Regions from separate parts of the Homo sapiens genome. Here region 1 is linked to region 2. The links come from fine-mapping of genetic effects on gene expression. A gene starts in region 2. The other region holds a variant in brackets. All regions are shown on one strand. Distances are from middle to middle. Region 1 holds the start of FUZ (fuzzy planar cell polarity protein). Region 2 holds the start of AP2A1 (adaptor related protein complex 2 subunit alpha 1).

What was found. PIP is the estimated chance that this variant, and not a neighbour inherited with it, causes the effect.
Region 1: its variant is fine-mapped to the expression of AP2A1 in pancreas (GTEx, PIP 0.94).

The regions. Positions count from the first base shown.
Region 1 is chr19:49,805,398-49,817,177 of GRCh38, forward strand. It overlaps FUZ (fuzzy planar cell polarity protein), which reads right to left and starts at 7,895. Exons shown (of 11, transcript NM_025129.5): 1 at 7,599-7,895; 2 at 7,218-7,339; 3 at 6,854-6,938; 4 at 6,234-6,302; 5 at 5,966-6,070; 6 at 3,981-4,178; 7 at 3,766-3,861; 8 at 3,320-3,426; 9 at 3,177-3,241; 10 at 3,017-3,091; 11 at 1,469-1,977. The coding sequence starts at 7,709. The coding sequence ends at 1,754. It overlaps LOC105372435 (a long non-coding RNA gene), which reads left to right and starts at 3,523. Exons shown (of 2, transcript NR_187900.1): 1 at 3,523-3,629; 2 at 3,916-4,429. It overlaps AP2A1 (adaptor related protein complex 2 subunit alpha 1), which reads left to right. Exons shown (of 23, transcript NM_130787.3): 19 at 56-179; 20 at 264-380; 21 at 475-544; 22 at 722-856; 23 at 1,284-1,717. The coding sequence ends at 1,361. RefSeq lists enhancers at 3,650-3,749, 7,766-8,572, 7,959-8,198, 8,409-8,458 and a silencer at 3,930-4,099. The variant A/C (reference allele first, on the strand shown) is at 7,044.
Region 2 is chr19:49,762,903-49,772,701 of GRCh38, forward strand. AP2A1 (adaptor related protein complex 2 subunit alpha 1) reads left to right here and starts at 4,099. Exons shown (of 23, transcript NM_130787.3): 1 at 4,099-4,298. The coding sequence starts at 4,232. It overlaps TSKS (testis specific serine kinase substrate), which reads right to left and starts at 404. Exons shown (of 11, transcript NM_021733.2): 1 at 176-404. The coding sequence starts at 345. It also overlaps the pseudogene RNU6-841P. RefSeq lists enhancers at 2,764-3,741, 3,795-4,563, 8,503-9,427 and a silencer at 3,654-4,233.

The DNA.
Region 1 (11,780 bases), 43 kb after region 2:
AGACCTCCCGGGGGCCCACCTCCTCTGTCTGGCTTCCTTGACTCCTGGCGGGCACAGCTGGCTGTGCAGACCAAGCGCGTGGCGGCGCAGGTGGACGGCGGCGCGCAGGTGCAGCAGGTGCTCAATATCGAGTGCCTGCGGGACTTCCTGACGCCCCCGCTGCTGTCCGTGCGCTTCCGGTGAGTCAGGTACGGCGCGGCCGGTGGGCGGAGCCTCCGGGGTGAGGGGCGGGGCCTAATGGAGCCTCCCTTTCACCTCATCAGGTACGGTGGCGCCCCCCAGGCCCTCACCCTGAAGCTCCCAGTGACCATCAACAAGTTCTTCCAGCCCACCGAGATGGCGGCCCAGGATTTCTTCCAGCGCTGGAAGCAGCTGAGCCTGTGAGGGGTGGGGAGGGGGCGGAGCCAAAGCCGCGCCTCTGGGTGGGCGGGTCGGGCCGTCCAGGTCCCTGACTTGAACCTTCCCGGTCCCCAGCCCTCAACAGGAGGCGCAGAAAATCTTCAAAGCCAACCACCCCATGGACGCAGAAGTTACTAAGGCCAAGGTGAGAGACCGCGGGCGTGTTTGCCGGCCTATGGCTGCTTTGCTTCTCTGAGCCTCTGTTTTCCCATCTGTAAAGTGGGGCCAATTCCCATCCCCAAGGGTTTTTTGGGATCTGGGATGCCACTGTGTGGTAACTAACAGCTCTGGCACACTCTGACGGCGCCCCCCCTCCTCCCAGCTTCTGGGGTTTGGCTCTGCTCTCCTGGACAATGTGGACCCCAACCCTGAGAACTTCGTGGGGGCGGGGATCATCCAGACTAAAGCCCTGCAGGTGGGCTGTCTGCTTCGGCTGGAGCCCAATGCCCAGGCCCAGGTGAGTGCTGCTGTGGGAGGCCTGAGGCCGGCAGGAAGGCCGCCTGTCATCTCTGCGTCCACCCTTCCTGCCTCACTGTTCTTTAATTCACGTCCCCACTTTGACCCTCCTCCTCTCACATTTCTTTGTCCACTTTTACTCCTCTTTATCTATCAGTTTAATCTCCTGTCTCCAACCTCTGGTGTTCCTCTCCTCTTCCTGTCCCTCCCTGATTTCTACCTTTCCATATCCTTTCCACCTTTCTCTCATCTTTTATAATTTTCTTCCTCTCTGGCGCCTCTGTTGATTTCAGTCTTACATTTTTCTCTCCTGTGTCTTGTATCACCTTTCTGGCCCCTTTATCCTTCCTTCCTTCTATCTCCCTTGGGTCCCGACTTCCCTGGGCTCCCCATCTCCTCTGAGTTCTGCCCCCAATGCCCCCACCCAGATGTACCGGCTGACCCTGCGCACCAGCAAGGAGCCCGTCTCCCGTCACCTGTGTGAGCTGCTGGCACAGCAGTTCTGAGCCCTGGACTCTGCCCCGGGGGATGTGGCCGGCACTGGGCAGCCCCTTGGACTGAGGCAGTTTTGGTGGATGGGGGACCTCCACTGGTGACAGAGAAGACACCAGGGTTTGGGGGATGCCTGGGACTTTCCTCCGGCCTTTTGTATTTTTATTTTTGTTCATCTGCTGCTGTTTACATTCTGGGGGGTTAGGGGGAGTCCCCCTCCCTCCCTTTCCCCCCCAAGCACAGAGGGGAGAGGGGCCAGGGAAGTGGATGTCTCCTCCCCTCCCACCCCACCCTGTTGTAGCCCCTCCTACCCCCTCCCCATCCAGGGGCTGTGTATTATTGTGAGCGAATAAACAGAGAGACGCTAACAGCCCCATGTCTGTGTCCATCACCCACTGCTAGGTAGTCAAAGAAGTGGGGTGAGGGCATGCAGAGTGTGGGTGGCCAGGCTTCGCAGCCCATGGGTGGGACTCTGGGGAGACAGCAGCAGCAGCAGCCGCCGAAGCCCCAGCTGCAAGGCCACCAGACGCACTCCTGTGCCTGGTTCCTCAGTCCCCAACACCAGGTAGCAAGCTCTGGGCAGCTGGGCCTGGTAGACCTCATCTTCTGTCTTCTCTGGTGGCCCTGGCTCTGGAGAAAGAACAGGGGGCACTGACATGACAAGTAGCATGCTAACCTTTGCAAGCCACACCACATCCTGATCCCAAGTTCTGAACGCGTGGGGTCTCTGAACACAGGTTTTGGGAGCCTCCTGCCAGGGGAGGGCCTCGGGGCTCTAGCTGGCTGTCAGCAACTTGAAGACCACAATGATGTCACTCAGCTCACCCTCTTCCTCTTTCTCAGCCTTGGCCCCCATTTTCCTGGAGAAACTGTGCAGCTGCAGGTGATCCTCTTAGCAATACACATGGCGAACACGGCAGCAACACAGGAGCTCCTGTAGCCTTTTCCAGGAGCCCACCCGCCCCACTGTACAAGGCGGGTGGAGGGAAACAGGCAGGGGCCAGTGGGAGGTGGAGTCGCACAGCTAAGAAGGGGTGCAGCCCCCGAGTTGGAGCTCTTGACCACTGTGCTGCATTCATCCGGGCTTCACTGGGGTCACAGCGCCATCCCAGGTCCCTTTCTTTGTCTTTCTGGGCCCTTAAGGGTTCTACGACAATTTTTCCGTTCTAACCCAGAATCTTGTGAAATCCTCCTCCATACCCTCAGCCTATCAGCAAAGCCTGTGCTTTTGGCAGTTGTGCAGAGCGCTGGACTGTGTGGATATGGGAGCAAGATCCCCTGTGTTCAAATATGGCTCTGCCACTCATGAGCTGAGCCTCAGTTTCCTCATCTGTAATATGGGAATGATGAGGTAATGGGATAGTCCTCACCTGTGAGGATGAAGTGATTTCATTCTTTCATTACGTGTAAAGGCACTGGGAAGAGGTGAGGTCTCAGTGTTAACTATTGTTGACTATGATCCAGGAGATTCTGAAGCCAGGCGGGGACCTCCCTTCCCCTCCCTTCCCATCTGCATCAATGCTCAGATCTCAAGGAAAACCACTGCCCTATGGCCCAGTGCATACTGGGTTCCTCCGGATCCTCCAACCCCACCTCCTACTCCCATTTTGTGCGACCTGGGACTCAGTGTCCCCGCCTGCGCAGTGGGAGCACTGTGCCTTCCGCTGACCTGGTGGGAAGTGCGTGGAGGTGACCAGGGTATAGAAGTTTCGGAGGAGGCGCCGGCGCTGTTCTGGTGAAGGCTCTGCTGGGAGGAAAAGGCGGTGATGCAGAGCGCCTCCCCGGCCCACGCCCCTCCTACCCCTGCCCCTGCCCCTGTCCTCAGTCACCTTTATCCCCCAAGGGCTCCACGGTGAAGAGGCAGCGCTTCAGTTCCAGGTGGAGGAGCAGCAGCCTGTGGGAAAGGGAAGGGAATGTCATGGCTGGGGAAGAGGACATGACCCCCGACCCACTCCCTCCATCCGAGCCCTACCCGAGGATGTCTGTGTGAAGGGGGAAGCCACTGGGCAGCGCCCGGGGTCCCAACGGCAGACAGGCCCGCAACGGGTCCAGCAGTGGCTGCCACCAGCGCTCCAGAAGCTGCAGGGGGCGTGGTCATTGTGAGGTCGTCATGGGAAGGCGGGGCCGGCGGGGGAGGTCGGGGGGTGTACAAGGATAGGGGCGTGGTCAATCGGGAGGGGCGGGGCCTGCAAGAAGAGTGGAGGGCGGAGGGCAGAAGGGACTGGGGAAGGGGCGAGGCCTGGAAGAATAGAGGCAGAGGCGGGAGCGGCCGATCTTGGCGGGTAGGTGAATGACTGGAGCGCAGTCCAGAAGAGGCGGGGCTGGGGAAAGATGCCGCTGGCAGGGCAGGGTGGTGGGGAAGGGCCCTCCTGGTAGCGGGTGTCCTAAGAGCGAAAGCGGGACGTGGCGCGGGTTCACCTGTGGATACAACTGGCTGAGGGGTGGGCTCGGCCCGCAGAGTAGACACAGCTCCAGGCTCGGCAGCAGAGTCAGGGTCAGGAGCCGGTGTGGGACCTGAAGCAGGGCACAGGCTGGGGCTCATCGCGGCCCGGCCCCTTTCCATCGCAGATCCCGCCTCCTCGCGACTCGGCCCCCAGGTCACATCCCTCCGTCGGTGCCCGCCACCCACTCACCGTGGGGCTCCCGTGCGGCAGGTACACCGGGTAGTCGCGAGCGGTCTGCGGCGGCAGGGACCCCACCAGCCAGGGGAGCAGCACGGCCTCGGGCGTCCCCAGCCGCCACCAACCCTCTGTTGCTGCCACCACCCGGCCGGACACCACCAGACTGACGAAGGTCGTGCCCGCGGCCTCAGCGAACCCGGAGAGGGCTTCCTGGGTACGGGAGGCAGGAGGACTGGGAGTCAGCAGACAAGCGTAGGGGGTGGCAGCGACTTCCCAGATGGGCAGGGAATGGGGAGAAACCCACAGCCAGCCCCGAGCTCGCGCAGTGGCCATGCTCCTACGTCTCACCCTCTCTGAGCCTGAGTTCCTTCACTTTCATACGAAGTCACATCCCCAACTCACACTGTGAAGTCTGTGAAATCTGATTAAACATCTAGCCTGGGCGGGCAAACTGAAGCTAATAATGTAACCGCAGCAGCTACCGTTCATCCAGGCCTGTTACATGCCGAGTAGGCACCATTAGCAACGTAGAGAAGCCAAGTCACCTGCTGAGAGTCACATGCCTGGGAGGCCGCCACACCAGGCAAGTCCACAAGAGCAGTATTTAAGTAGAGGTAGCTAGAGATCTGAGAGGCAGGAGGAAGAACATGCACTGAGGTTGGAAACTTGTTGGGATCTCAGGACTGTGAGGTAGCTGGGTGGAAGTAGACTGTGGATTTAGCAACAGGTTAGGGGGTGCCAGGTGCCACAGGCCTTCAAACACCAGGCTGAGGAGCTGGGACCTTGTCCTGGGGGAGGTGGAGGCTGCCGGAGGGCTGTGAGCAGGAAAGGGGCAGAGCCAGCTCTGGATATAGTAGGGTTCTTCTGGTGGCCGGGTGTGATGGCTCACACCTGTCATCCCAGCACTATGGGAGGCTGAGGCGGGAGGACTGCTTGAGCCCAGGAGTTCGAGACCAGCCCGGGCAACTTAATGGAAACCCATCCCCAACCCTAGTCCATCTCTTAAAAAAAAAAATAGCTGAATGTCAGCCGGGCGCGGTGGCTCATGCCTGTAATCCCAGCACTTTGGGAGGCTGAGGCGGGTGGATCACGAGGTCAGGCGTTCAAGACCAGCCTGGCCAACATAGTGAAACCCTGTCTCTACTAAAAATACAAAAAATTAGCTGGGCCAGGCGTGGTGACCAGCGCTTATAATCCTAGCTACTCGGGAGGTTGAGGCAGGGGAATCGTTTGAACCCAGGAGGCAGAGGTTGCAGTGAGCCAAGATTGCGCCATTGCACTCCAGCCCCTGTGACAGTGTAAGACTCTGTCTCAAAAAAAAAAAAAAAAAAAAAATAGCTGAATGTGGTGGCACAGTGCCTATAGTGTCAGCTACTGGGGAGGCTGAGATGAGAGGATCACTTGAATCCAGGAGTTCAAGGCTGCAGTGAGCTATGACTGAGCCACTGTGCTCTAGCCTGGATGACAGAGCAAGACCCTGTCTCAGAAAAGAAAGAAAGATGGCCCAGGCGCAGTGGCTCACGCCTGTCATCCCAGCACTGTGGGAGGCCAAGGCAGGTGGATCACCTGAGGTAAGAAGTTCGAGACCAGCTTGGCCAACATGGTGAAACCCTGTCTCTACTAAAAATACAAAAAATTAGCCGGGCGTAGTGGTGGGCGCCTGTAATCCCAGCTGCTCGGGAAGCTGAGGCAGGAGAATTACTTGAACCCGGGAGGCGCAGGCTGCAGTGAGCCGAGATGGTGCCATTGTACTCCAGCCTGGGCAACAAGAGTGAAACTACGTCTCAAATAAAAAGAGAGAAAGAAAAGAAAAAAGAAAAGAAAGAGAAAGAAAAGAAAAAAAAAAAAGAAAAAAGATTCTTCTGGGACCAGGTGGGGATAGGACTGGAAGCTGAGAGGATAGGAGGAGGTTGGGACAATGGTCCAGAAGAAAGAGGATGAGGACTGAGCCAGGGCCAGCAGAACAGGTGTAAGAGTTTCCATAGCATCCCCAGTACCTGCAAGAGGGACCCCTCTGGAGGAATCACGCAGTCCACACACTGGGTCAGGTCCCCGATGAGCTCCGAGTCCCCCAGGAAGCTGTCGATGAGGCAATAACTGGCCTAGGAGAGGAAGAAGGGACCAGCCTAGGATTCAAGTGGGCCCAGGGTCAGACAACCAAGAACCTGTGGGACCAGGCTGCCCCAGGGGCTGCTGGGAACTGTAGTTCCCAAATGGCAGTGCCCAGGTATCCTAACTTCCCACCCTCATGTCCTGCAACCTCACCCTCAAGTCCTTCTTCAGTCTCTCCACGTTGCGGATATTGGTCAGTTCTTCAAGTCCCACAAGAAGGACCTAGAAGAATCATATAGGAGAGGATGGGCGAGGGGCTGGGACTTGAACTCCTGGGTCTGAAGGAAGAGGGGGCTGGGACTCCCACTTCTGGGTCTGGGGACTGGGGAGTCAAGATTCCTGGGTTCTGGCCGGGCGCGGAGGCTCATGCCTGTAATTCCAGCACTTTGGGAGGCCAAGGTGGGTGGATCACTTGAGGTCAGGAGTTTGAGACCAGCCTGGCCAATATGGTGAAACCCCGTCTCTACAAAAAATACAAAAATTAGCTGGGCATGGTGGCACGTGCCTGTAATCCCAGCTACTTGGGAAGCTGAGGCACGAGAATCGCTTGAACCTGGGAGGCAGAGGTTGCAGTGAGCCGAGATCAAGCCACTGCACTCCAGCCTGGGCAACAGAGCGAGACTCCGTCTCAAAACAAAACAAACAAACAAACAAAAGATTCCTGGGTTCTGAGGAAGGAAGTGTTGGTGGTCTGCACTCCTAGGTCTGAGGGAAAAGGATGCTGAGATCTCAGATTCCTGGTCTGGGGAGAAAAGAGGACTGGTGAGTCTCACCATGGCTCCAAACACCATTTGGAGTAGTCTCTCCAGCCTCAGCTCAGAGATGCCCACCTCAGATGACAGAACAATGAGGGTGATGCTGTGGAATGGAAGTGAGAAGAATGAGTCAAGGCCTGGGGAATCAGGAAGGGGTATGTTGGAGTCCGCCCATTGATCCTAGAACACCAGATACATCCTCTCTCAG[A/C]CCAACCTGCCTTTCTTATAGAGAACATCAGGGATCAAAGAGGGTAACTGGCTTGCTAAAGATCCCATAGCCAAATTAACAGCTGCTTTTAGAGAGCTGGAAGGCCTCCGGGGTCATCTTCAACAGGGACTATCACCCAGGCCCTGTCCCTGTCCCACGTTCCCTCCTGGGGACCTGTCATGGAAGCTTTTCCACACCACAGTCGTGTTCTCGGTCCTCGCAGAGCTCAGCTGCACCTCCAGATTCTGCCCAAACATGTGGACTCCATTGAGGGAACCGATGACAGAGAACGGGAGCTAAGGAGGGGTTAGGGACATCAGACAAGAGCACCCCCCCATCCCCTTCCCCCTTAGGACCCAAGTGTGCCAGCTCCCAGCCCCATCCTCTTTCCATATGACCTGGCAGTGCCTCTTTGGGGAACCAGGCTTATTGGTCCATTGCCTCCTCGGTCCTACAAATTCAACACTGAAACTTCCCCAGCCCCTACTGCCTTGAAGACCCAGAGTCAAAACACCGAACCCCCTTCGGTTTAGATACAGGCGTCCAAGGCCCCACCTGCTGACGGGCGGGGGCGCCGCCGCGACTGCTCCTGCAGAATAGGGGGACCCCGCTGGAGGCCGCGAGGCACAGCAGATGCACAGTGCCGCCCGTCCCCTCCTCCCCCATTTAGGACTCCCACCGCGGTCCCTCACGTGGGGACTGTCAGTGCGGGTCTTGGAGCATGGCGGTAATCAGAGTAACTCGGCCTGTGGTCCGGAGCCGCCAGAGGGCGAGATGGGGAGCTGATTGGAAGAGGATTAACTTCCCGCCTTCTTCACCCAACTCAAACAGACCCTCAAACCCTATTCAGGCACCTCCCCCAAACCCATTAGGTTCTCTTCCGCCCTAGCCGGAAGTCACGGTACCCCTAACAAAGATGGCGGCAAATTGAATTTGCAAAGCTTTCTAGTTTCTCCGAGGAGGTAAAGAGAACCAAGAAGCCGGATTGAAGATGATGACTGCGCCAAGGCGTTGCCTAGCCACCATCCTGTAGGCTTTGATGATTTACATTCTAAACGGAAAAAACAGCTGTGCCCGGATCAAAGATTGCGATGGTCCCAAAGCATTGCCTAGCAACCACATTCCCTGTAGGTTTCCAGTATATAGTAGTAAACAATGTGCCCTACTCAAAGATGGCGACCGTGGCGGGGCGTTGCCAAGCAACCACCATTCAGCCTGATATCCATTCCAAGGCTGTAAACAGCTGTGCCCTGCTCAAAGATGGCGGCACGTCGAAGTCCGAGCACCCTCCTTGGGGCGAAATCGAGAAAAACACCATCTCCCCTACAACCTTCGAGGGTGGTTGAGTCCAGCGATCGTTGCCTAGTAACCACTAAAAAAAAGGTTGTTTTTGTTATTAGAAAAAAGAAAACAAGGAAATCCTTTATTTTCCAGAATAATAAAAATAATATCATTTCTGTAATGAATTTATACATGATAGCATACCATGTAAAATGTGAAAAATCCCTTCCCCAATTTTTTTCCTAAAATACAGTTTAACGTAGACTATTCATACGTTTTCACAAAGATGATCAATATACTAACATTTCCACACTTTCTTTTTTGCCATGAAAAAGTATGTCTATTTCATCTTAATAATGTATTTTTATAATCTATTTTATGGATGTGACAAATTGATTTGACCAATTCTGTATTGATGTACATTAGGTTGTTGAACTCCTCCAGACTAGCCAACTAGTGCTGGGACAGCATTTTACTGACTTTTTAAAATGCCCTTATGAATATTTTTATTATTTTACACAGGCAGCATTTACTTGTAATGACAAAAGTATTTATGATTCATTTTTCCCTTCCTCTTCCTTCTTGCAGATCAGCCCATCTTTCTAGCATAATTTTTAATTTTCCTACTTCCTAAAGTACATCTTTTTCTCTTTTTTTTTTTTTTGGGAGAGGGGACAGGGTCTCGTTCTGTCGCCCAAGGTGGAGTGCAGTGGAACCATCTCGGCTAACTGCAACCTCCGCCTCCAGGATTCAAGCGATTCTCCTGCCTCAGCCTCCTGAGTAGCTGGGATTACAGGTGTGCCCCCACCACGTCCAGCTAATTTTTGTAGTTTTTGTGGAGACAGGGTGTCGCCATGTTGCCCAAGCTGGTCTCAAACTCTTTGGCTCAAATGATCCACCCACCTCAGCCTCTCAAAGTGCTGGGACTACAGGCAGGAGCCACCATGCCTGGCCTAGGTACCATTTTAATCTTCCTTCTTGCCTATTGATATTTTTTTTCCTTTCTCTGGATTACTTTTATCTTCCTTACAACTTTATTAAAATGTTAGTTACACAGGCATAAAAGAGGGGGCTGCTCTAGATGAAAAGAAACTTGAGACATAATGTCTAAATATGTGTGTGGTCTTTGTTTGGATCCTGATACAAATAAACCAACTGTAAAAACACATTTTGAGACAATTGGAACGTTTGATTACACACTTACTGTTGGATGATACTAAGAAGTTAATTTTGTTACAGGTAACAATGGCATACTAGTAATGTAAGAAAGTGTTCATAAAATTGGAAAGATGCCTGCCAAGCACACAGGAGTAAAATCATATGATTGTATGGATTTGAAGGCTTCAGCAGGCCAGGCGCGGCGGCTTACGCCTGTAATCCCAGCACTTTGGGAGGCCAAGGTGGGCGGGTCACCTGAGGTCTGGAGTTCGAGACCAGCCTGACCAACATGGAGAAACCCCGGCTCTACTAAAAATACAAAATTAGCTGGGCGTGGTGGCGCATGCCTGTAAACTCAGCTACTCGGGAGGCTGAGGCAGGATAATCGCTTGAACCCAGGAGGTGGAGGCTGCCGTGAGCCGAGACTGTGCCATTGCACTGCAGCCTGGGCAACAAGAACAAAACTCCATCTCAAAAAAAAAAAAAAAAAAAAAGCTTCAGCAAATGAGACTGTCTCAAAAAAAAAAGGGCTTCCGCAGGCTCACTGCCTATAATCCGGGCACTCTAGGAGGCCAAAACGGGTGGATCACCTGAGGTCAGGAGTTTGAGACCAGCCTGGCCAACATGGTAAAACCCTGTCTCTAACAAAAATACAAAAATTTGCCTGCGAGGTGGCACACACCTGTAGTCCCAGCTACTGGGGAGGCAGAGGCAGGAGAATCGGTGGAACCAGGGAGGCAGAGGCTGCAGCGAGCCGACACTGCGCCACTGCACTCCAGTCTGGGCGACAGAGCGAGATTTTGTCAAAAAAAAAATAATAAAATAAAAAAAAATAAAAATAAAAATAAAAGATAAAAGAAAAATAGAAACCCAATAAAAAATAATTTTAAATGATAAAGGTAAAAACCTTTATCATTAGGCTTTCTGTAAGTACTTTTCAATTGGTGATTATTATTATTATTATTACTTTTTTTTTTTTGAGACAGCGCCTCGCTCCGTCCCCCAGGCTGGAGTGCAGTGGCGCGATCTCTGTTCACTGCAAGCTCCGCCTTCCGGGTTCACGCCATTCTCCTGCCTCAGCCTCCGGAGTAGCTGGGACTACAGGCGCCCGCCACCACGCCCCGCTAATTTTTTTTTTTTTTTTTTTGGATTTTCAGTAGAGACGGGGTTTCACCGTGTTAGCAAGGATGGTCTCGATCTCCTGACCTCGTGATCTGCCCGCCTTGGCCTCCCAAAGTGCTGGGATTGCAAGCATGAGCCACTGCGCCCGGCCTGTTTTTTTTGTTTTTTTTGTTTTTTTTTTGAGACAGTCTCGCTCTGTCGCCCAGGCTGGAGTGCAGTGGCGTGATCTCGGCTCACTGCAACCTCTGCCTCCCGGGTTCAAGCGATTCTCCTTGCCTCAGCCTCTCGAGTTGCTGGGATTACAGGTGGGCACCACGACGCCCAGTGATACTGACCTCGTGATGCGCCCGCCTCTACCTCCCAAAGTGCTGGAATTACAGGCATGAGCCATCTCGCCCGGCCGAAGATTATGTTTTAAAATATTTACTGGCCATTCAAAATTTTGTGTGTGTGTTTGTGTGAAACTAGTCAGGTTTCTTTTTATTTATTTATTTTTATTTTTTTTGAGACGGAGTCTAACTCTGCCGCCCAGGCTGGAATGCAGTGGCACAATCTCAGTTGACTGCAACCTCCGCCTCCCGGGTTCAGGAGAATCTCCTGACTCAGCCTCCCAAGTAGCTGGGATTACAGACGCCCACCAGGACGGCTAATTTTTTTATTTTTAGTAGTTAGAAGGAGTTTCACCATGTTGGCCAGGCTGGTCTTGAACCCCTTACCTCGGGTGATCTGCCCGCCTTGGCCTCCCAAAGTGCTGGGATTACAAGCGTGAGCCACGGCGTCCGGCCCTGGTCAGGTTTCTTTCTATTAAAACAAATATAAAGTGGCAGGGCACGATGGCTAACACCTGGGATCGCTTTAGCCGAGGAGTTTGAGACACGCCAGAGCAACACAGTGAGACCCCATCTCTACAAAAAATTTAAAAATTAGCTGGAAGTGGTAGTGCGCGGCTGTGGTCCCAGCTGCTCCACAGGCTGAAGAGTGGCTCCAGTGCGAGTAGAGGCTGCCGTGAGCCAAGATTGGGCCACTGCACTTCAACCTGCACAACAGAAAGAGACCCTGCCTCAAAAAATAAAAATTAAAATTAAAAGATAATAGTAATGAAGTGTTTCTATTTTTCTATATTGTTATTCATCAGTAAGATTTATTTGCGTAGTACATTTCTGTCAACAAACACGC
Region 2 (9,799 bases):
TTCTTCCTCTCTACCTCCCTGTGACTTGATGTCTCTTCACTGCTGCCCTCTTTCCTGCCCCCGACCTGCTGGCTTTTCCCCCTCCCCTTCCTCTAGCACCCACAGTCGGACTCCTGCTCTGTTGGAGGTAGTGCTGGGCATTAGAACCATCCCTGACAGTGTGCAACAAACCCACCCGTGGAACGACACGGCCTTCTTTTTCTTCGGGATCCCCTTGGCCCGGCTGGTCACCCTCCGGGGAGCCTCTGGGACTAGCTGGGAGCAGCTCTCCACCCCCGTGGGGGTGTCCCCGGCCTCATGGATCTCTTTGGACTGCCAGATCGTCTTCACCACCACGCTCGCCATGGTGTGGGGGTCTGGCTCCCAGGGAGGGGCTCCTTCCTCTGAGACTTCCTACCTACTGTGACCACAGACCCTCAGGATCCACTGTCCCCTCAGCCTGCCTCACAAAGGACCCAACCACTGGGCCCCAGTGAGTGGGGGGCACAGGGTAGGGAGAGATGCTGGCCCAGGTCATTCCCCTAGGGTTCTCAGTGGACTCCTCCTGTTCAGGATTCTAGTTACATGCCCAATGTGCCCCCCGTCTTCAGAGCTCCAGTGGATGGATTCATGCTAGCCTGTAACTTAACAATGGGTCGGCCCACGGATTCTTGGGAGAGGTCCAACTTCCCTCTCCCTGAGACTAAGCGTGGGGTCACACAGCCCTGTGCACTTGTTCTTGATTCTTCATGTAGCTTCCTGGATTTGACAATTGGCTGGGGTTTGAGAGACTGTGGTCGAAGAGGGCTGAGATCCAGACCCTGACCTGGAGGGTCTCATATTCTATGGGGCGTCGGGGTCGGGGGAAAGGCAATATACAGGTAGATCAACAAAAGAAAGCTAGGTGCGGTGGGCCTCGGGGTCAGGGTAGAAGGTGAGGGAGGAGAGGAAGGTAGAGAGTTGGGGCAGGACAGAGGGTGGTATCCCCCTCCCCCGTTTATTTATTTATTATTTTCTTTAATACTTTTTATTTTTTTTGAGACAGAGTCTCTCTCTGTCATGGAGGCTGGAGTTCAGTGGCGCGATCTCAGCTCATTGCAACCTCCACCTCCCGGGGTTCAACCGATTCTCCTGCCTCAGCCTCCCCAGTAGCTGGGACTACAGGCGCTGGCCACAATGTCCGGCTAATTTTTGTATTTTTAGTAGAGACGGGTTTCACCATGTTGGCCAAGTTGGTCTCAAACTCCCGACCTCAAATGGTCCACCCGCCTTAGCCTCCCAAAGTGTGGGATTACAGACATGAGCCACCATGCTCCGCTATAATTTTTTTTTTTTTTTTTTAGATGGAGTCTCGCTCTGACACCCAGGCTGGAGTGCAGTGGCGTGATCTTGGCTCATTGCAACCTCTACCTCCCAGTTTCAAGCGATTCTCCTGCCTCAGCCTCCTGAGTAGCTGGGACTACAGGTACCTGCCACCACACCCATCTAATTTTTTTTTTGTATTTTTAGTAGAGACAGGGTTTCACTGTGTTGGCTAGGCTAGTCTCCAACTCCTGACCTCGTGATCTGCCCACTTCAGCCTCCCAAAGCATTGGAATTACAGGTGTGAGCCACTGCGCCCCGCCCGCCCAAAGTATTTAAAAAATATATGGAACATGTCACAAATTTGCATGTGGTCTTTGCGCAGGGCCCATGCTAATCTTCTCTGTATCGTTCCAATGTTAATACATGTGCTGTCGAAGCGAGCACTGCCCTGCTATTTAGGGACAGACTTTTCCTGTTCTCTTCACACTTCTCAAAAAGACTAGTTCAAACATCACTGCTAATAGACATTTTAAATGCTGTTATCCCCAGGGAGAAAGTACTTCTTCCTGGTCATGAATGGACTCCAGTTCTTGGAACACTTAATCTTTCTATAATAAAGAACTCCTGGCTGGGCGCGGTGTCTCACACCTGTAATCCCAGCACTTTGGGAGGCCGAGGCGGGCGGATCACCTGAGGTTAGGAGTTCAAGACCAGCCTGGCCAACATAGTGAAACACTGTCTCTACAAAAATACAAAAATTAGGCGAGCATGATGACGGGTGCCTGTAATCCCAGCTACTTAGGAGGCTGAGGCAGGAAAATCGCTTTAACTCGGGAGGAAGAGGTTACAGTGAGCCGAGATTGAGTCACTGAACTCCAGCCTGGGGGACAGAGAGAGACTCTGTCTCAAAAAAAAGAAAAAAAAAAAAGGCCGGGCGCAGTGGCTCACGCCTGTAATTCCAGCACTTTGGGAGGCCGAGGTGGGCGGATCACAAGGTCAGGAGATCGAGACCATCCTGGCTAACACGGTGAAACCCCGTCTCTACTAAAAACACAAAAAATTAGCCAGGCATGGTGGCGTGCGCCTGTAGTCCCAGCTACTTGGGAGGCTGAGGCAGGAGAATGGCGTGAACCCGGGAGGCGGAGGTTGCAGTGAGCTGAGATCGCGCCACTGCACCCCAGCCTGGGCGACAGAGCGAGACTCCATCTCAAAAAAAAAAAAAAAGAACTTCAAGTCCTGGGATTAATAATTTTTCTTGTGTTTAATGGGGCTGCTTTATGTTCTTCAGGGGCAAACAGCACCCCCCTCCCATATTAGAAATGGACTCTCCCTGTGACTAAAACAGCTGAGCAATTTCTGTCCTCCTGGAATCCAAAATGGACTTTCCCAGGCCCCATTCCTGGAAACCCAAATGGACGCATCCATTGAGCCTGGAAGGTGGGCTCTTCTCAACCTCCTTTCCATCTCCCAGGATTCAGAATGGCCATTCCAAAGGTCCAGAACACACCCCCAAGGCTCATTCCAGGAATTCTTGGCTTCTGAGATTAGAAAAGGCTGATGGGGTGGAGTTTTGTTCCTACAGGTGACAGAAATGGACTCTTCCAGTTCCCTTTGTCCCAAATTTCTCAATCTCCTGGGGCGTTGGGAGTTCTGGCCGTTTTGCCTTCCCCAAAGCCAGTTTACCAAAGAGTCTCTGGGGAGCTGGGGGTTGGGGATGGAGGCTGGGGCTGGGCCAAAGCAGATTCACCTATTTCTTCTTTTAACAAATGTTGTTGAAACTGTTCAAGGCCAGGTCCCATTCTTGCCCAGAAGGAGTTCCCAGTCTGGAGGAGACAATCAATTTTGGTTTGATATCTGCTACAATGGAGGCTGCCCGAGAGACACTGCGGTTGGACAAAAAAAAAAAGGCAACATATATTGAAAAGTAAGCCAAGATACGGTTTACGTTTATTTCTGCTTTTTCACTTCCAAGCTGTGTGGCCCTGGGCAAGTCATTCGCCCTCTCGACCTAAGTTTTAACTTCTGCTTAATGGGACTAGCCTTGAATTACTGTTTTTCACTCTGAGATTCTAGGTCTCCTGACAACTCAAGTCCCGACACGTTGGCTGCAGAGAAGGGGGGAGGGGAGGAAGGCTTCCTAGAAGAGGATTTCAGCAGTCGGGGGTGACAGTGGAGGGAGAAAGGGAACACGGAGACGCTTGCGCAGTAAACACCGCACGCTCTCTTGCCTCGCCCAACCCCTTCTCTGCAGCAGGGAATTGCAGGCGTCGCTCCACCTATCCCAGCCGAGCGGAGTGACACCCTCCCCTCTTTCCTTCTCTACTGATCTTCGCCTTCCGCCCGCCCCACAGCCGCCCAATGGAGGGCTGAAGTAGGACAGATCTCGCCAATCCGCGACGCCTGCGGGGCAGGTCTACCCGTTCATTGGTCCCAGTCAACCTAAGTCCCGCCTCCTAGGACCGTTCCCCGCCTTCCTTCACGTCCCTCCCTTCCTCCTTGGAGAGCCGCTAGATCCAATCAGTGTTTGACCTGGCCGCGCGGAGGGGGCGGGCCCATGATACGCAATCGAACCCCGCCCGTCTCTCGGGCAACGCCTCCTCCCCCCCCTCCCCAGCTCCCAAACGGAAATAGCGGAACACTGGGCCAATCGTAGCGTCGTGCCTTTGCTTGGCGGCCAATGAGAGAGGAAGTGGGGGAGAAACCCGCCTGTGAGCGGCAGGAGCTCAAGCCAGTGGGCGGCTCAGAGCTCCGGACCGCGGGCGGAGGGGAGGGGCAGGGGGCGGTGCCACGGCCTGCCAGCCCGCCCGCCCGCCCGCCAGCCAGCCCTCCCCGCGGCCGGCTCGGCTCCTTGGCGCTGCCTGGGGTCCTTTCCGCCCGGTCCCCGCTTGCCAGCCCCCGCTGCTCTGTGCCCTGTCCGGCCAGGCCTGGAGCCGACACCACCGCCATCATGCCGGCCGTGTCCAAGGGCGATGGGATGCGGGGGCTCGCGGTGTTCATCTCCGACATCCGGAACTGTGAGCGCGCGGCCGGGGGACACTGGAGACGCGGGGGAGGGGGGAGCGTGAAATTGAGGGGTTTGGGGATCACAGAGGGACCCGGGGGATCAAAAGCCTCTGCGGCCGTATAGGGACAGCATAGATGGGCCCCAGGAAGAACTTTAGAGTGGGGGGCACGTAGGGGCTTGGGGTGTCATAGAGTGCCTCTTGAGGTGACGACACGGAGTAGCTAGAGGGGTCCGGGAGGGCTTGAAAGGGGAGGAAGCCAGTGAGGTCCCGGGGATGGGAGCATAGAGGTGTCCCCTGGGAAAGACTGAAAAGCTGGGGGATCTTACAAACGATGGGGTTAGAGGGATTCCCAATGTAGAGAAGAAGTGAAAGAAGTGTATGGCGGGGGTGCCCTGTGGAGCGATGGAATGGGAAGAGGCCAGAGGGGACCTGGAGGAAGTGGAATGCCGGAAGCCTAATGAAGCAGGGCTTGAGGACCTGGGATAGGGGGTGTCATACAGGGGAAAGGGGTTAGATAGGTCACCGAGGCTCCTGGCCAGTGGTATAGAGGAGGCCTGAGAGTGGTTGAAAGTCCATGAGTTTGGGGCAGGGAGATGATGGGACGGGGAGACTATAAGGACACCCTGGTGAAGGATAGAGGGGCTTCAGGGTGGGAGATTGCCTAGAAGACATGGAAGGCAGTGTGGAGGGGGCTAGAGGGGCAGCTGAGGGGAAAGGAGGGACCCAAGGAACACAGAGGAAAAGAGCTGTCGGTGTAAGGTCTTGGGAGAACCTGTGACAGGGAACGGGGGGCCAGGAAAGAAGAGGACATTAGAGTAGGGGATTGGGGAAAGGGTAGAAGAAGGAGCGCCCAGACCTCAAGGAAGGCGTTGGGTTCTGAAGTGCTTGAGGGGTAGATATCTGGAAAGCTGGGAATAGGGGAAGTCTAATCCCAGAGAGAGGTCAGGGGTCAGGCAGCAGGACAGGCAGGGATCTGAGCCCTTTTCTATTTGACCACAGTAATATGGGGACGGTGGTCCCTGCCAGGAAGAGTTGTCGTGACGATGGGAATCCTGGCGGCAAGTCAGCTCTCAACTCCTGGGAATGGCTGTGGGTGATTGGAGCTGCCAGGAGTCTTCAGAGGCTGCATCCGCATGGGCTCTGGGGTCAGCCAGACTTGGGTTTGCGTTTGAGCACTGCCACTCCCTGGCTGTGTGACCTTGAATGAGGGACTTCACCTCTCGGTTTCCTCATCTGTCAAGAGAGACTGCTGATAGTATCTTCCTGAGGGGCTTGTGACAATGCCCCTCAGGCCTTTCACTCGTTCCAGGCCCCAGATGGAACTTGGCTATTGTTTTTACTCCGTTGGCTCTGAACAGCAGCCCTGTAAAGTACCCAGTGATGGTTGTTGTTTTAGAATTTAACTGTTATGGAAGGATCTGGCATGTAATAGGTGCTCAGGGAACAGGAGGGTGGAAACAGTTGAGTATCAGTTGGAGGAGAAATGATCACTTGTTATGATAAGGGGCGGGGCTATGGGGGTTGTGGAGGAGCTGGGAGCCACTGTTAGCAGACGGGGGCTGCCTCTGTTACCCACCAGGGATGTGACCCTCCACGAGTTGTTTAACCTCTTTCAGGACGTTTTCTTGTCTGCAAACTTCATTCATAACAGTGTCTTGCCTCTGAAGGCTCATTTATTCATTCATTCACTTGACAAATACTTTTTGATTGCTCTAGTGTTGTCCAGGCCCTGTTCTAGGTACTGGGGTGACAATAGTGAACAGAAATTCCTGTTCTTGCTGGTCATGGTGGCTCATGCCTGTCATCCCAGCACTTTGGGGGGCCGAGGTAGGCGGATCACCTGAGGTCAGGAGTTCAAGACCAACCTGGCCAACATGGTGAAACTCCATCTCTACTAAAAATACAAAAATTAGCCAGGTGTGGTGGTGGGTGCCTGTAATCCCAGCTACTCAGGAGGCTGAGGCAGGAGAATCGCTTGAACCCGGGAGGCAGAGGTTGCAATGAGCCGAGATTCACACCATTGCACTCCAGGCTGGGCAACAAGAGTGAAACTCCGTCTCCAAAAATAAAAAAAAAGAAAAAGAAACTCCTGTCCTTGGGAGCTCCCTTCCCCGAGGAAGACAGAACATATGCACAGGGAACACCCTGATATACAACCTCAGGACCTGACTGGTTCTGTGAAGAAAAATAAGGAGGAAATGGTCGGGAGAGGGACTAGGATGGAGAGGGTACTCAGTAGGCCTCGTGGAGGAAGTCATATCTGAGTGGAGCAAGCCCTGTGGATTTTGGAGGAAAGGGGTCCTGGCACAGGGAGGTGCATTCAGAGGTCCTGAGGTTGCGGCATGCTTGACATGTGTTCGAGCGAGAGGGAGAAGGTCAGTGTGGCTGAAGCTGTGGGAGTGAAGGGGAGAGAGGGCGGGTGTGGAGGGGAGTGGGAACAGGATCGGGAAAGGCTTTCTGGGCCATGGTGAGCACTTTGGCCTTTGTCTGCATGAGAATATTTTGAGCAGGGGAGGGATGTGACCGATTGATGTTTTAAGATAATTCCTCTGGCTGCTGTGAGAACAGATTCTAGAGGTAGCCATGGAAGCAGGGAACCAAATTAGGAGGGTGTTGCAGGCCTCTGGGTGAGAGATGGTGCTGGCTTAACAGGGTGAGAAGGGACTGGTGAGAAATGGGTTGGTGATACATTTTTTTTTCCGAGACAGTCTCTGTTGCCCAGGTTGGAGTGCAGTGGCACGATCATACCTCACTGCAACCTCCGCCTCCCAGGTTCAAGCAATTCTCGTGCCTCAGCCTCCCCGGTAGCTGGGATTACAGGCACCCGCCACCACGCTTGGCTAATTTTTGTATTTTTAGTAGACGCAGGGTTTCCCCATGTTGGCCAGGCTGGTCTCGAACTCCCAACCTCAAGTGATCTGCCCGCCTTGGCCTCCCAAAGTGCTGGCATTATAAGCGTGAGCCACTGCACCCAGCCTGGGATACAACTTGAAGGAAAAACTGTCAGGATTTGCAAAGGGATTTGATGATGGGGGTTGGGGAAGGAAAGAGATCGTCCCGTCACTGCAGGACCCCAGAGACGAGCCAGAGGACAGAGGGGAGATGCAGGCTTGGGGCACTGGTAGTAATTTAGCCACAGGAATTAGGGCTGGAGAATCAGGAGCCTTTTCTTAGCAAGCGTATGTTGAACGGCTGGTATGTCTCAAGAATTGTGCTGAATGCTGGGGACACTGGTGAACAGGACAGACTTGTCCACCCCCTCCATGAAGCTCCCAGCCCTGTGGGGGAGAAGGTGCAACATACAAATTGCAGTAGTCCTTCACACTAATACCTGGACACGGATGTTCACTGCAACATTATTCATGATAGCCGGAAAACAGAAACGGGCCAAATGCCCATCAACTGAGAAATAAAGTGTGGTCTATGTAGTGGAATATTACCGGGCCTTAAAAAATAATGACGTCCTGCTACATGCTGCCACAGGGATGGACCTTGAAAACATGACACCAAGTGAAAGAAGCCAGACACAGGAGGCCACGTGTTGTATGATTCCATGTTGATAGAGTATCTTGAATAGGCAGATCCATGGAGACAGAAAGATTAGTGGTTGCCTAGAGTAGGGGCTGGTGGGATGGGGAGTGACTGCTCATGAATGCATAGGTTCTTTTTTTATTTTTTGAGATGGAGTCTCACTCTGTCGCCCAGGCTGGAGTGCAATGGGGTGATCTCGGCTTACTGCAACCTCTGCCTCCCAAGTTCAGGCGATTCTCCTGCCTCAGCTTCCTGAGTAGCTGGGATTACAGGCGTGTGCCACCACACCTGGCTAATTTTTGTACTTTTAGTAGAGACGGGGTTTTTACATGTTGGTCAGGATGGTCTCGAACTCCTGGCCTCAGGTGATCCACTACCCCAGCCTTCCAAAGTGCTAGGATTACAGGTGTGAGCTACCATGCCCGGCAGCATTCAGAGCTTCTTTTGGGTTCATGAAAAAGCCTACAGCTGGACACGGCACATGCTTGTAGTCCCAGCTACTTGGGAGACTGAGGTAGGAGGATCATTTGAACCCAGGAGTTCGAATCCAGCCCGGGCCACATAGTGAAACCTCATCTCTTAAAAAAAAAAAAAAAAAAAAAAAGAAAGGTCCTGGAATTCGATAGTAGTAATGGTTGCACAACATCATGAATGTACTAAAGAACGCTGAATTGTTCACTGTAAAAGGGTCAATTTTATGGTATGTGAATTGTATCTCTTTTTTTTTGTGACAGTCACAAAAATGGCGCGATCTTGGCTCACTGCACCCTCCATTTCCCAGGTTCAAGCGATTCTCCTGCCTCAGCCTCCCGAGTAGCTGGGATTATAGGCGCCCGCCACTATGCCCCGCTGATTTTTGTATTTTTAGTAGAGACAGGGTTTCACCATGTTGGCCAGGCTGGTCTCGAACTCCTGATCTCGAGTGATCTGCCTGCTTCAGCCTCACAAAATGCTGAGATTACAGGTGTGAGCCACCGCGCCTGGCCGTATCTCGATTTTTTTTTAAATGGGGAAAGAATTTGCAGCTGTCCTAAGCCCAGTGAGGAAGAGGGCCATGGTGTTGAGAGAATGGGGATTCTGTGTGGTCAGCGAGCTGCGGCCTGGCTTTGCTTCACAAGAGACCTTTGGAGCTGTGTGGGCAGGAAGTAGGGGAGTTACCTAGGCTGAGGGCAGTGAGAAGAGCTGTGAAGGCAGAGGCGGGGCAAGTGCAAAGGTCCTGACTTCCGGACGCCATGGCGGGCATCTCTATCTAGTCCCAGCTACTCAGGAGGTGGAGGCAGAAGGATTGCTTGAGGCCAGGAATTTGAGACCAGCCTTGGCAACATAGCAAGACCCTGTCTCTCTTTCTTTTTTTTGACAGAGTCTGGCTCTGTCATCCCGGCTGGAGTACAGTGGTGCGATCTCAGCTCGCTGCAACCTCCTCCTCCTGGGATCAAGCTATCCTCCCGCCTCAGCCTCCTAAGTAGCTGGGACTATAGGCACATGCCATCATGCCCAGCAAATTTTTTTGTATTTTTCATAGAGTTTTTTTTTTTTTTTTTTTTTTTTTTTTTTTGAGATGGAGTCTTGCTCTGTCGCCCAGGCTGGAGTGCAGTGGCGCGATCTCCGCTCACTGCAAGCTCCACCTCCCGGGTTCACGGAGATGGGTTTTTATTATGTTGCCCGGGCTGGTCTCAAATTCCTGGGCTCAAGTGATCTGCCTACCTCGGCCTCCCGAAGTGCTGGGATTACAGGAGTGAGGCTCAGTGCCTGGCCCCCTTCTCTATTTTCAAGAATTCTTTTTTTTTTTTGGAAACGGAGTCTCGCTCTGTCCCCCAGGCTGGAGTGCGGTGGTGCGATCTCGGCTCACTGCAAGTTCTGCCTCCCGGGTTCATGCCATTCTCCTGCCTCAGCCTCCCGAGTAGCTGGGACTACAGGCGCCCGCCAACACGCCCGGCTAATTTTTTGTATTTTTTTTTTAGTAGAGATGGGGTTTCACT